Linked DNA regions of Homo sapiens: regions 1 and 3 are each linked to region 2. The links come from fine-mapping of genetic effects on gene expression. A gene starts in region 2. Each other region holds a variant in brackets. All regions are shown on one strand. Distances are from middle to middle. Region 1 overlaps APBB2 (amyloid beta precursor protein binding family B member 2). Region 2 holds the start of APBB2 (amyloid beta precursor protein binding family B member 2). Region 3 overlaps APBB2 (amyloid beta precursor protein binding family B member 2).

What was found. PIP is the estimated chance that this variant, and not a neighbour inherited with it, causes the effect.
Region 1: its variant is the best candidate, but not a certain one, in a credible set for the expression of APBB2 in aorta (GTEx, PIP 0.54).
Region 3: its variant is the best candidate, but not a certain one, in a credible set for the expression of APBB2 in lung (TOPMed, PIP 0.63).

What each region holds. Positions count from the first base shown.
Region 1 is chr4:40,934,208-40,938,328 of GRCh38, reverse strand. APBB2 (amyloid beta precursor protein binding family B member 2) reads left to right here. Exons shown (of 18, transcript NM_004307.2): 8 at 3,190-3,252; 9 at 3,630-3,715; 10 at 3,813-3,873. Among named protein-coding and RNA genes, the nearest start is that of NSUN7, 190 kb to the right of the region's middle. The variant A/C (reference allele first, on the strand shown) is at 1,723.
Region 2 is chr4:41,212,239-41,216,359 of GRCh38, reverse strand. APBB2 (amyloid beta precursor protein binding family B member 2) reads left to right here and starts at 1,818. Exons shown (of 18, transcript NM_004307.2): 1 at 1,818-1,955. RefSeq lists silencers at 1,554-1,723, 2,134-2,443 and an enhancer at 3,446-3,525.
Region 3 is chr4:40,991,521-40,995,641 of GRCh38, reverse strand. All of the region lies in intron 6 of APBB2 (amyloid beta precursor protein binding family B member 2), which reads left to right. Among named protein-coding and RNA genes, the nearest start is that of APBB2, 220 kb to the left of the region's middle. The variant C/T (reference allele first, on the strand shown) is at 2,397.

The DNA.
Region 1 (4,121 bases), 280 kb after region 2:
ACACACTGTCTCTGAGGAGCTAAGGCTCCAAGGCTCTCCCAGAACTGAGCAGGATCAAGTAATCAGAGAAAGGGAGGTTGCAGCCTGGACAAGGTCAGGACAAGCACCAGGAGGGTGTCCCAGCTATGACTGTGGTACCAGAATGTCACTCAGCTGTGCAAGGCTTTAGCTGCATTGCCTGGAGGGTTACCAGGCTCATGGAAGCTTGTTGCTCATAGAAGATGGTCCCTGTTGGTCCGTTACCACCTCTTTCCCCATCTTTGTGTTTGTCTTACCTGAGGCATATTGTCCAACTTGCTTTTTCCCCTTTTAATGTTTTTCTCTTTGTCTCTCCTCTTCCTCCTTCATCTCTCCCACCCCTACGGGGGTGGATACAGACTTTCTGTAGAACCAAAGAATCTCTGTTGGGTTGTGCTTTTTTAAAAATTTGTTAACTAAAAATTATTAGCAAAACTTATTAGCCAAATATAGAAAATATTCTCTCTTCTTAATTAAAAAAGTTAGATGAATAGACCATGTAATTCTTAAAATTTAAGACAAAGTGACTTTGTCTTTCATTGACTTTAATTTTTTAAAAAAGAAAAATTATGGTCACTTATACATTGGAGAAAGTTTGTCATATTTGATGTAAATGAATAGTTGTAAATATAGGAGGGGAAAAAAGATCTTTGGCCCAGTCATAACACATATAATGCCAGTTTCCATTTCCTTACTGAGTTTTGTGCTAAAGGATTTCCTTAAGAGTGCCCGTGTTAAGTTTTTGTAAAATCACTATACAGAGCCTTTGTTTATTTAAATCTGTAAAAGGTGATTGTTGGACATTTGCCATCTAACTCATGTTTCCATAACATGAGAGCTGGATTCTGACAGTCTTAATACTGTTTTTAGCTTTTGCTTTACAGATACCCTTATGTCCAAAGAGTAAATGCATTAAAAATTTTAAAAACCACACACACGCAGAGAACTGTTTTAATTAGGTACTGAAGACTTTTCTGAGTACTTGTTTTAGAAAATACTCTTCTTTTACTTTCTGTAGCCTCAACATATAGGGTCCCTTGGGGATAATTTCTGAAATTCTTTTTGTGAGGTAACTTTGTTTTTCTTGTTTCTTTATAAATTTCTCCACAAAGACACAATTATCTTGGGTCTTCCTAATTCATCATCTGATTATCCTTTTTTAAAGTTCAACTTAACAACAAATATTGCTCACATGTAAACAGTGATGACAATTTGAGGCCATATAAGCTTGTTTTCTTTTTGAAAAAGAAATTCTAGCTTAAAATTTTATTTTGTACTTGATATTTCAGGTCCTCATCTCACATCCATATTAGTAGCCCTACAGTGGTCCAAACCGAAATTGGTCACTGGCCCATCTGGAAATATGAGAAAAATTGGGCATCTTTCTCTCAGGAAAATGTACATGTACAAAACCCCGCACCCATTTCAGGGGTTCATAGCTCCTCCGAGCTAACAGGTTAAGATTGCCCTAGGTTATTAATTTTCTCTTCATAAAGACTGAACACTGCTTCTGGGGGTAGAGTGAGGGGAAAGGTAAGGGATTGGGCAACATTCCTGCCCTTTATTCATTAAGAGAAATTATTTTTTAAAAGTAAATATAGTGGTCTAAGTTCCCATTTTATTTTGAAAAGCTGCAGTTTAGGTGCCTAGACCAAAAATGAAAATGACACCACATGTGCAATAGTAATAATGGGTCTAAATTTG[A/C]AGTGTCTTTGCTCTCAGAGAGGCTTGCAGAGTTTGGTAAGTGCATGTTGCACCAGGCGCCATGGCTTACGCCTGTAATCCCAGCACTTTGGAAGGCCTAAGTGGGAGGATCACTTGAGCTCAGGAGTTCAAGACCAGCCTGGGTAGCATAATGGAACCCCCATCTCAACAAAAAAGTTTTAAAAAATTAGCCAGGTGTAGTAGCATGCACCTGAATAGTCCCAGCTACTCAGGAGGCCAAGGCAGGAGGATTGCTTGAGCCAGGAGGTCAAGGCTACAGTGAGCTGTGATTGGGCCACTGCACTCCAGCCTGGGTGACAGAGTGAGACCCTGTCTCAAAAAAATTTTTAAACAAAATAAATGCATCTTTCGACGCACAAGACATTTAAGCTTAGTTTTTTTCTGCTTTTAGTGGTTTTTAAAACTGTATCAATGTTGTGAGTAAAAGTTATGGGTCATTATTCACTTCTCATTTTCAAAGAACTTCAGTTGAAAAGTGATTTAGCTGAAAAGTTTTGATGGTTGATTTCTTATACAAACAGATTTGCCTAACCAGTCAGTAAAGCAATTCACAAGACTGTCCCTGAGTTTTATTAGCCTTGCTTGCTTATTTCCCCAAATCTTAGATGAAAAATACTTGAATATTCACTAGGCCTAGTAGAAAGAAAAGACATTTTCTCATTGTCTGAGGTGGATGGAGCAGTTGTTTAGATTTGGAAATCAGTTATTGCAAGAGCTCTCGCAACAAAGCCAGGCTTCATGCCTTGCACTATAATTACGTTTAGAAAATCATTTCATGATCAAGTATTAATTTGTGAAGAAGCTTTTGAAGCAAAAAAAAAAAAGTAGAGCTTTTATGAATTAGAGAAATTTATGTTAGACTGTTTAGAGTTGTTTTTTGTTAGGTTAAATTTCCGCCAAGTGTTGATGTCAGTCTGTGTTCTTCACTAACCCTCTCTCCCCATCATTCTCCTTTTTTTCTTTTAAGTGAAAATATCTTGACCCCCAACTTTTGGGGCCCTCAGCCATGGGCATTCCCTAGTTTCCAAACAAACACGGTACCCGTCCCTCATTCCACCCCCACCACCAGAAAACAGTTCTGTTTGGTTTATAGGGAGGAAAATGATTATTATGGAATTAGGTATGCTAGTTATTGAATACTTGGAATTATATTGTTTGCTTTTAAAATTACCTTAAGGAAATAACTTCACTGTCTGCTTCTAATAATGTTTAGTCATTTATTTGGTAAGTAATTAAAGCACCATCACTCTCCTGCCCTCGTCTTCAGGTGATAATCTAGACATAGAGGGAGTGAGCCAACAAGTTGCTGTTAGAGTTAACTTGTTCCCTAACCCATCTTGTGAATATCAATGCTAACAACAGTGTCTTGTGTTTTTTTTTTTTCTTTTCTTTTCTTTTTCTTTAAATCAATGTGCTTTTTTCCTATGTGAATAATTATATGTCTAGAAACAGCCATGGAGTGATTTTGCTGTTCTGAATGGGGGAAAGATTAATAGTGACATTTGGAAGGCAAGTATATTGTCAGATCTTAGATCATTTAATATTTTATCCTTTCTGCATGGCTGTGGCTGTATATTTTTCTTCTTTGTGAATATCATGCATTCTGCAGGGACACAGTGATCGGGCTTCTTGCTAGGGGCATTCAGCTCACACTCCTGTTGCCTTTTTTTGGTGTCTCCCATTGTGAATGCCCTAGGTTCCCCGTTGTTTTGTAAGAACAGGAGTTTGCACCAGTCAGCATTCAACAGTCCTTGCATGCCTTTCTCTGCCTAAGCTCACGTACACTCTCTGCCTCTTGCTGGGAAGACGTTTCTCCCCTTTGATATTTGAGGCAATGAATGGTCTTCTCCCCCATTGTACATTAACAAGGTTCTATTTTCCTCTAGGATTTGCATGCAGCCACTGTTAACCCGGACCCCAGTTTAAAAGAGTTTGAAGGAGCAACCCTACGCTATGCATCTTTGAAACTCAGGTAGGACATTAGTAGGATCGACCTGCTGTCAATGTATGGCTTTGTGCAGATAGTTTGCAATAGAATTCTAAGTCCACTTTTCTGTTTTTCTGCCTAGAAATGCCCCACACCCTGATGATGATGATTCTTGTAGTATCAACAGTGACCCAGAAGCCAAGGTTTGTAAAGACTTGCTTTCAGCCACCAGGTTATATTCTTAGATCCAAATAATGACTTTGGATCATTGTCCAGTTTTTACAAACCATCAACCCAGAGCCATTTAATAAGTAATTATCCCTCAATTTTCTCTTTCCTAATCTCCCTGACACTTGAAGAAAACCCCTAGGCTAAGTTAGGTTTGGGGGGATTTCTAGAACCATCAAGACTCTGCCTGTATCTCACTACGTCAGCTCTTTGCACAATGTAA
Region 2 (4,121 bases):
GCAGGCTCCGCTCACCTACCCCGGACCCCCGAGAGAGAGCGGGGTGGCCAGGCCGGGTTCCGGGGATCTGAGGGGAGCTGTGAGGTCCGGGAATAGAGTGCCTTGGAAAGAGGACCCGTCTGCAAGGTTGGAGGCTGGTCGATCTCCGCTCCTGACGGGAATGGTGGTCTTGGGCTGGTTTCCTTGCCTCTTTGGCCTTGAAGATCACAGACTAAGAACCACAGGCTCTCCAGTTCAGAGAGCCTGTATTTTCCCCAAGAGGTCTACTGTGGCCCTCGACTGTCCTTGGTCCACGGACGTGTTAGGTGGATCTTGGGGTGCAGAGACTCAGTCCCAAGAGTAAACACTTTTCATGAATTTATAGGGATTTCTCTGTGACAGTATTGTTTTTATGTTGTAGGAAGGAGGGACATGATTGCTGGCCTCCAGCTCGGTCTGAGGGAGATAATTGTTAATTGGAGAGGTTATTGGAGTGCAAAAGTCAGAAACCACCTTCCACAAGGCAGCCCCCCTCCCATCCCTTCGTAACAACCTCACTGAGTCTGCATGAGGGTCCCTCTATACACTCTATTCGCACCTTGTGCATTTCCCTCCCAGCACTCTACCTGTTTGAAATAACCGTTTTGAGTGATTATTTGATAGGTGTCTGTCACCCGGCCGGACTATAAATTCCATGAAAGCAGGGGCCTGGGCTTTTAAATTCACCACTATCCTCAGGCCTAGTACAAGACCTCGTGGATCCTTAATAAACTCATGTAGGAAAGAATAAAGTAATGCCCACCCCACTGCATAGAGTCCTCATAGGAAGAATCACGTGAGTTTTTAATTCGAGATCCTTGGTAGGACTGTGTGTGTGTGTGTGTATGGGTAGGGTTCTCTAAAGTGTATAGTCCTCACACCAGCAGCATCAGCATCCCATGGGAACTTGTTAGATATACAGATGCTTGGGCCCCACCACATATCTACCCATTCAGAGACACAGATTGGGACTCAGGGATTTGTACTTCAGCAAACCCTCCAGGCGATTCTGATCCAGGCTCCAGTTTGACAACCGCTGCCCTGGTGAAGAGCAATCCTAAGGATACTTTGGGGATGTCATTCACAGCGTCTGGGGCAGAGCACGGTTTACCGTTTACTGAGACTCGACTCTTATCAGGGCTTTGTTTGCACGCTTACAATTAGAGTTATAGATAATATTATTGGCAATGGAAAGGAAAACCTCCTTTTCCTCTCCGGCAGTTGTATCTCTCCCCTGATATTATCTTGTGATTTCCGGATCAAAGAAGAGTGTGTGTGCGGCATATGCCTGGGGGTGGGGATAGGAGGTAGAAGGAAGGAGAAGGTGTCGCCTACAACTTGCAGTTAGCCTGGGTGGGTGTGGGCAGCTCTCCTGTGGGGACATTTTCCTATTGCAAGGGAATGCTGGCGTGTGGGAGAAAAGCCAGGGCTAAGGTAACCCAACTGCCTTTTGGTGCAGACAGACACCAGCCACACGGAGGGGATACCCGGGCTGCACTGCACGTCCTGCCTTTGGGTCTTACTGGGGGACCCATTGCCTCCCTGCGTGTTCCCAGGCGATTGGGGAGGGTGCCTCCCGCAGGCCCTGCCGCCTCCACCTGCAGGGGTCGCCCTGGGAGCGCGGCCCGCCTCCTTCTGCCCGGCCCCCACCCCCCGGCCCCGCCTTTCTCCCATTCGGCCCCCTCCCCGCCGGGTCCCTCCAGCCTTCCCTCGCGCAGCCGCTGCCAAAGCCTGGAGAAGTGGAATCTCGTCAGCGCCGCTCCCTGCGCGGGACTCGCGGAACGGCACTGAGCATGCTCAGTTGCCGGAGCCCGTTCTGGTCTCAAGTAGGAAGCTAGTGCGCTGTAACCGCATCTGATCTGGGCGCTCCGGGAAGGGCGAGACTGGAGCAGAGCCGCTGGGCGCCGGAGCCGAGGCGAGCGCCGCGCGCACCACTGGTGAGCCCAGCTTTCTTCCTTGCCTTTGCCCCGGATTCCGGGGCAGCACGAGAGTGCTGGGGAAACACCCGGGTAGCGGCAGCAGCGTGCGGCGAGCGGCTGCGGGTTCCCCCGGCGGCTTCTCCTCTGCTCCCGGCCCCGGGGCTCCGCGGCCACTGCTGCCCGCTCAGCCGCAGCCACACCTGCAGCAGCTGCCGCGGCATCTGCAGCGGGGCGCCTGCTGCGGAGTCCCGTGCGCCCTGCGCCCGCGCCGCAGGGCCAGTGGCACGGCGACTGCGGGCTCACTCTCCTTGACTTCCATCCCTCCCGCTTCCCGGCGCCCTCTTTCCCTCAGCAGCCCCGGCTTGGCAGGGCCTGGGGCGGGGGAGACCGGGTTGGAGGCGGTGCGCCCGGGTGGGGACTGCAGAGGGGAAAAGTGAGGGTGGGCGCCTGCGGGAAGAGCGCACACCCCCTTGTCCTGGCACCGGCCTCCGCTGTGCCGCTCGGCTGTCTCTCCTGGGCGGCAGCGCGCTCCTGCCGGGGAGTTGGAGCCGGGGTTGGCTTCTCCACGAGGGGTTCAGAGGCCAGCCCATGAGACATGAAAGGGGGGAAAAGTTCCTTTTCCCCCTCGGTGGCAGAGAGAGCGTTTAACTAGAAAATGGCTGTGCATAGGGGACCGACTCCAGGAAACTGGCCACTGGGACCCGAAAGCCCCTGCGCTGCCCACCGGGCGGAATGGAGGGTGGTACGCTAGAAATGACATTTGTGCGGCGAGAACAGAGCTGGACGGAGGGAAGGATGCTGAGACCCATAGAAACAATGAAAGGTGGTCTTCACGTCGGTGAAGTGGTGTAGACTACGGGTTCGGGGCAAACAGCCGAGGGAGCATGGGACTAGAATTCAAAAAAATAAATTAATTTGGATAAATCATATGTGGAGTTGTCACCGACCGTTCTGTAGTCAAGTTCTGCGCGGTTTTAGAGCCACGACTGTCACAGACGTTTTTGGATGGATTGAGTGGTTGAGGAGGGTTAAAATTGAGAGGAGAATAAGGTCAGTGTCGGAAGCTCCAACTGGGCTCTCGGAGGGGACAGTTTGTTTAAGTCCCTCAGTCACTGGCTTTACATTGTGTCTAATTACTTACGTGAAATACCCAAAGGATTATCATAAAATGATGCCATCGGTGGTGTTTGAATTCCAAGGAATGAGGAAACTTTGTGAGGTTGGCATGGGTTTATCATTTGTTTTAATATTTCACTGATTTAAAAAAAACAAACACAATGGCAGTTTGATCTGTTGTTTCTGGAGTTTACTCTCTTAAATCTTGCTTTTTTTTTTTTTCTTGTCATGGTTTCAGATTTAAAATCTTGTCCCCAAATGGCCATAATAATGCAGAGTATTAGAATTTGTGTGGCTGGCCTTTTAGGAACAGATGGAATCCTTGAAAGGGGATTTCTTCATGAACTTAGGTAGCAACCTTCTCGTTTTCAACTTGTAGCTTGTAAGCAATATTTGTTCAACAGTTGTTTATCATAACTTGCAACATCCTAGAAATGGCATCGTTCGTGAAGGATGGTATTTGTGGCGAGAATGGGGAAACCTCCAGGCTGGGGAAATGCCGAGAGAACACAGGTGGCAGTAGAGTACAGTGGGTTGATCATAGGGCGGAAGGTGGTGGGGTACAAGTACAAGATTTCAATTGCTGTTCTTTCGTTGTCCATGTACTGTATGACCCCGAAGTCACCGACAGTCTTCGTAAACTGGATGTAACCACGTCTCTAGATATTTGCTGAGAGCCTTTGAGAGACGACTCTAAAGTTGAGATCCTTTCCACAGAAGGTTTTTAGGTCCTATGCTTTTATTCCCTCTTCTAATGGATACTTTTAACTGAATAAATTCACCTTCAAGGAGCCAATGTGAACTGGCTTTCTGAAATTTTTATAAAGTGGTAATTGAAAAGCTGGATGGTGAGGTGGGAGGATTGCTTGAGCCTAGGAGTTTGAGGCTGTAGTGAGCTATGATCACGCCACTGCACTCCAGCCTGGGCAACAGAGTGAGATCCTGTTTCTGAAAAAAAGAAAGCTTGATGAGCTAAAGTGCAAAATACTGGTGTTTACACTTAGCTGGAGTAATGTGAATACTGACTCCAAAATTACTTGGGAAAAAACTATTGCATATATTGTAAGA
Region 3 (4,121 bases), 220 kb after region 2:
AACTCAGGAAGTCGAGGCTGTAGTGAGCTGTGTTTGTGCCACTGCACTGCAGCCTGGGCAACAAAGTGAGTCTGTTTCAAAAAAAAAAAAAAATTTTTTTTTTTTAAACATTAGCCAGATATAGTGGCACATACCTGTGGTCCCAGCTACTCAGGATGCTAAGGCCAGAAGATCGCTTGACCCTGGCATTTGAAACTATGATGGTGCCACTACACTCCAGCCTGAGCAACAGAGCAAGACTCTGTCTCAAAAAAAAGATCCATTTCTGACGGATGGACTTATTAATCAACTTCTCGAGAAATACTAAAGCCAAAATAAGAAACACTGGAGCCAAAATAAGAATCTATTAATTTGTTATGAGAATTACCACTCTCCTAGGTGTTAGATTTCTTGGTACTGCATGTTCAGTGCACATTCTCAATGCCAGTGTATTATTTTCCAAATAGAAATAATTACTCAACTGCATAGGAAACCCAAGCATAAGCTTGTTTGCTTGGGGAACATGGTTTCAGCCAAAGGGGTGTTGGATGAATCAAATATTTAAATGGTCTCAGGCTGGGATAGTCTGAGGCGCGCTGTCCTTCTTTCCCTTGAGATGATGCTACTTGGGACCTAGAATCCTTGAAGTGCATTGCCTAAGAGTCCCTCTTCAGAGAAAAGGGAATGATTGCTTTTTTTTTTAAGGTACTTACATTTTTGATCAATACAATCTTTCTTAAGATACAGTAATATTTTCCTTCTTTATTTCTTTCCCTCCTTCCCTCCCTCCCTCCTTCTCTCTCTCCTTCCTTCCTTTTTCCTTTCTTCTTTTCTTTTCTTTTTTTTTTTTTCCGGAGTCTTGCTCTGTCGCCCCAGGCTGGAGTGTAGTGGCACAATCTTGACTCACTGCTACCTCCGCCTCCCAGGTTCAAGCGATTCTCCTCCCTCAGCTTCCCGAGTAGCTGGGACTATAGGCATGTGCCACCACGCCTGGCTAATATTTTGTATTTTTAGTAGAGATGGGGTTTCACCATGTTAGCCAGGATGGTGTCAATCTCTTGACCTCATGATCCTGCCCACCTCACCCTCCCAAAGTGCTGGGATTACAGGCATGAGTCACTGCACCCGGCCCAAGATACAGTAATATTTTCTACTGAGTTAAAGATAAGTCATACTATGTTTGGGAGACATCTTATCTCACTCTTACTCCATTTCTTGGTTTTGATCCATTGACTGATTCAACTATCATACTTTAACTTCAAGAGCAATCTTATTTTCTTCATTTGCAAGTCTTGGAGAAAATCTCGTTGCAGCTAGTAAGTTTGGCCTGTAGTCTGTCTGCATCAGAACTCCTAGGTGTTTCTTTTTTTTTTTTTTGAGATGAGTCTTGCTCTGTTGCCCAGGCTGGAGTGCAGTGGCGCGATCTCGGCTCACTGCAAGCTCCACCTCCCAGGTTCACGCCATTCTCCTTCCTCAGCCTCCCGAGTAGCTGGGACTACAGGCGCCCGCTACCGTGCCCGGCTAATTTTTTGTAATTTTTAGTAGAGACGGGGCTTCACCATTCACAGGATGGTCTTGATCTTCTGACCTTGTGATCTGCCTGCCTTGGCCTCCCAAAGTGCTGGGATTACAGGTGTGAGCTACCGCGCCCAGCCTCTCCTAGGTGTTTCTTTAAATGTAGATACCTGGGCCCTACCTGTGCCTTACAGACTCAGACGCAGGTAGTGGGTCTCAGGAACCTGCATTTTAACTTCCTCCTCTATGCATCATTTGAGAAGCATGGCTCAGATTCTGACACAGGAACTGCTTTAGTTAGGGCCTTCTGTTGTGTTTGAAGTGCTGTGTTCCTATTATAATGGATACTGATCTGGCTAACATTTAACAAGAATCACAGCCTTAATGAAAAACGTGGAAAACATTTATTTTCTTTTAAAAAATAATATTTTCTTTTGTTTTTGATAGAATCAAGTAGAAGTGGCCAGGCATGATGGCTTATGCTGTAATCCCAGCACTTTGGGAGGTTGAGGCAGGAGGATTGCTTGAGGCCAGGAGTTTGAGACCAGCCTGGGCAACATAATGAGACTTCATCTCTATAAAAAATAAACAAAAAATTAGCTGGGTATGATGGCACGTGCCTGTAGTCCCAGCTACTCAGGAAGCTGAGGTGGGAGGATCTCCTTGAGCCCCGGAGGTCAAGGCTGCAGTGAGCCAAGATCACACCACTGCACTTCAGCCTGGGAGACAAAGGGTAACCCTGTCTCAAAAAACATTTTTGTTAAAAAAAAAAAAAAAAAAAAAAAAGAGAGAAGAGTTCTTAATTGCTCCTGTGCTCCAGAAATTAAACTACTGGAAATCTCTTCTCTTGTTCTTGTCCCTAAAATGGAATTTGTGCCATAAGCTTTACTGCACTATGAACA[C/T]TGAATATTTAAATCCCAGCTGTGCTATTACTAAATGGATGATTGTGGCTGAGTCACTTAACACCATACGTTTCCTCCTCTGTCAAATAGGGTTAATAATAGTCTCTGCCTTGTGGGGTGGTTGTGATGATTAACTGAAACAAGACATGTGGGGCACAGAACGTAGTGATTGCCATGTAGTAAGGGCTCAGCAAAAATTGGATTTTATAAATATTCTGGTATGGAAAATTAATTCTCCCACTGAAGGAAAAGCACAGAGAGAGAGTAAAAGAGGGACTACGATTGTGTACACAAACAGAAAATAACTTCAGATAAGCAGCAGAGTAGACTAGAACAAGTAGGCAGGAAGACAGTGTTTCACAACGTAGAGATCCTGCACATGGCAGGCCGGCCTATCTCCATCCGGCCCTGTGGTTTGGCTTGTTCGTCATTGCCCATGAGCCTCGGTCTTACTTGAAGGGGTGAGGAAGGTGATGGGTCCTGAGGGTGGTGCAGCTCCCTGGCCTGGACATCGGGGGTCGGTCTTCTGCTCGTGATACTCCTGCTCGCTGGCTTCATACTTCCCGCGTTACTTCCAGGGGTTACCAGCGTTTCCATCCAGTCATTTCACACACCTCATTGAACAATTTTCCAAGTGTTGGTTTGCTCTCTTCCTTACTACATATTAATGAGGTGTCCAAGACTGCTGTTCAGCACGTATCTAAAATGTTGTTTAACTACATCAGAAGGTAAATCTATAGCTGCTGAAGCGAACTAAAAAGCTGTGTCAATCTGGTGCAGTGGCTCACACCTGTAATCCCAGTGCTTTGGGAGGCTGAGGTGGGAGGATAGTTTGAGGCTAGGAGTTTGAGACCAGCATGGGCAACATAGAAAGACCCCCCCCCATCTCTACCAAAAATAAATAAATAAATAAAATTAGCTAAGTGTAGTGCCGTGCACCTTTAGTACCAGCTACTCGGGAGGCTGAGGCAGAGGATGTCACTTGGGCCCAGGTGGTCAAGGCTATAATTATGCCACTGGCTTCCAGCTTGTGCAACAGAGTGAGACCCTGTCTCTTAAAAACAAGCAACAAACAAAAAAGGCAGCTGCATTGATAATCAGTCAGGTAAAGCATCGTCATTTTCACTTTCAAAAAGTTGTTCTGAGTATTAAGTGTTAGCAAAGATGCTTTTCTCTCTGTAGTATTTTTAGCCTTAACAGTTTTCACTCTTAATTTCAGTGTGAGTGTGGTGTGTGTGGTGTCTGTGCGTGAGTGTGAGAGAGAGAGATGGGGAGGAGGAGGGAGAGTGAGAGCAGTGTTCTGATTGTAGAACACCCTCACAGGTAGAATTGTTATAACTTTCTAATTGCAGACCACTCTCATAGAAGATTCTTAAGGAAACCTCAGCCCACCTTCTGAAGGGATGAGACGAGTAGCATCTTCAAGTGAAATGCCCTCTGGGGTCTGAAGGTTCTAAAAAAAATCCTAGAAAACCAAGGAAGATGGTGAATTATGGAAGAACTACCCAGATGATTTTCAAAGCTGTAAATTAACAAGTGTGTCTGTTTTAGGAGGAGGGGGTGAAAAGTCTAGGGTGTGTGTGTGTGTTTTTCTTTCTTCTTTTCTCTGTTCACTTGCCAAAAACAAACAAAAATGACCTCACTTCAGACACAGGGATAAAAGCAGGAGGAAATTGCTATAGTTAGAACACTATAGGTTTTTTTTCCCCCTGTACTTTTTGGATA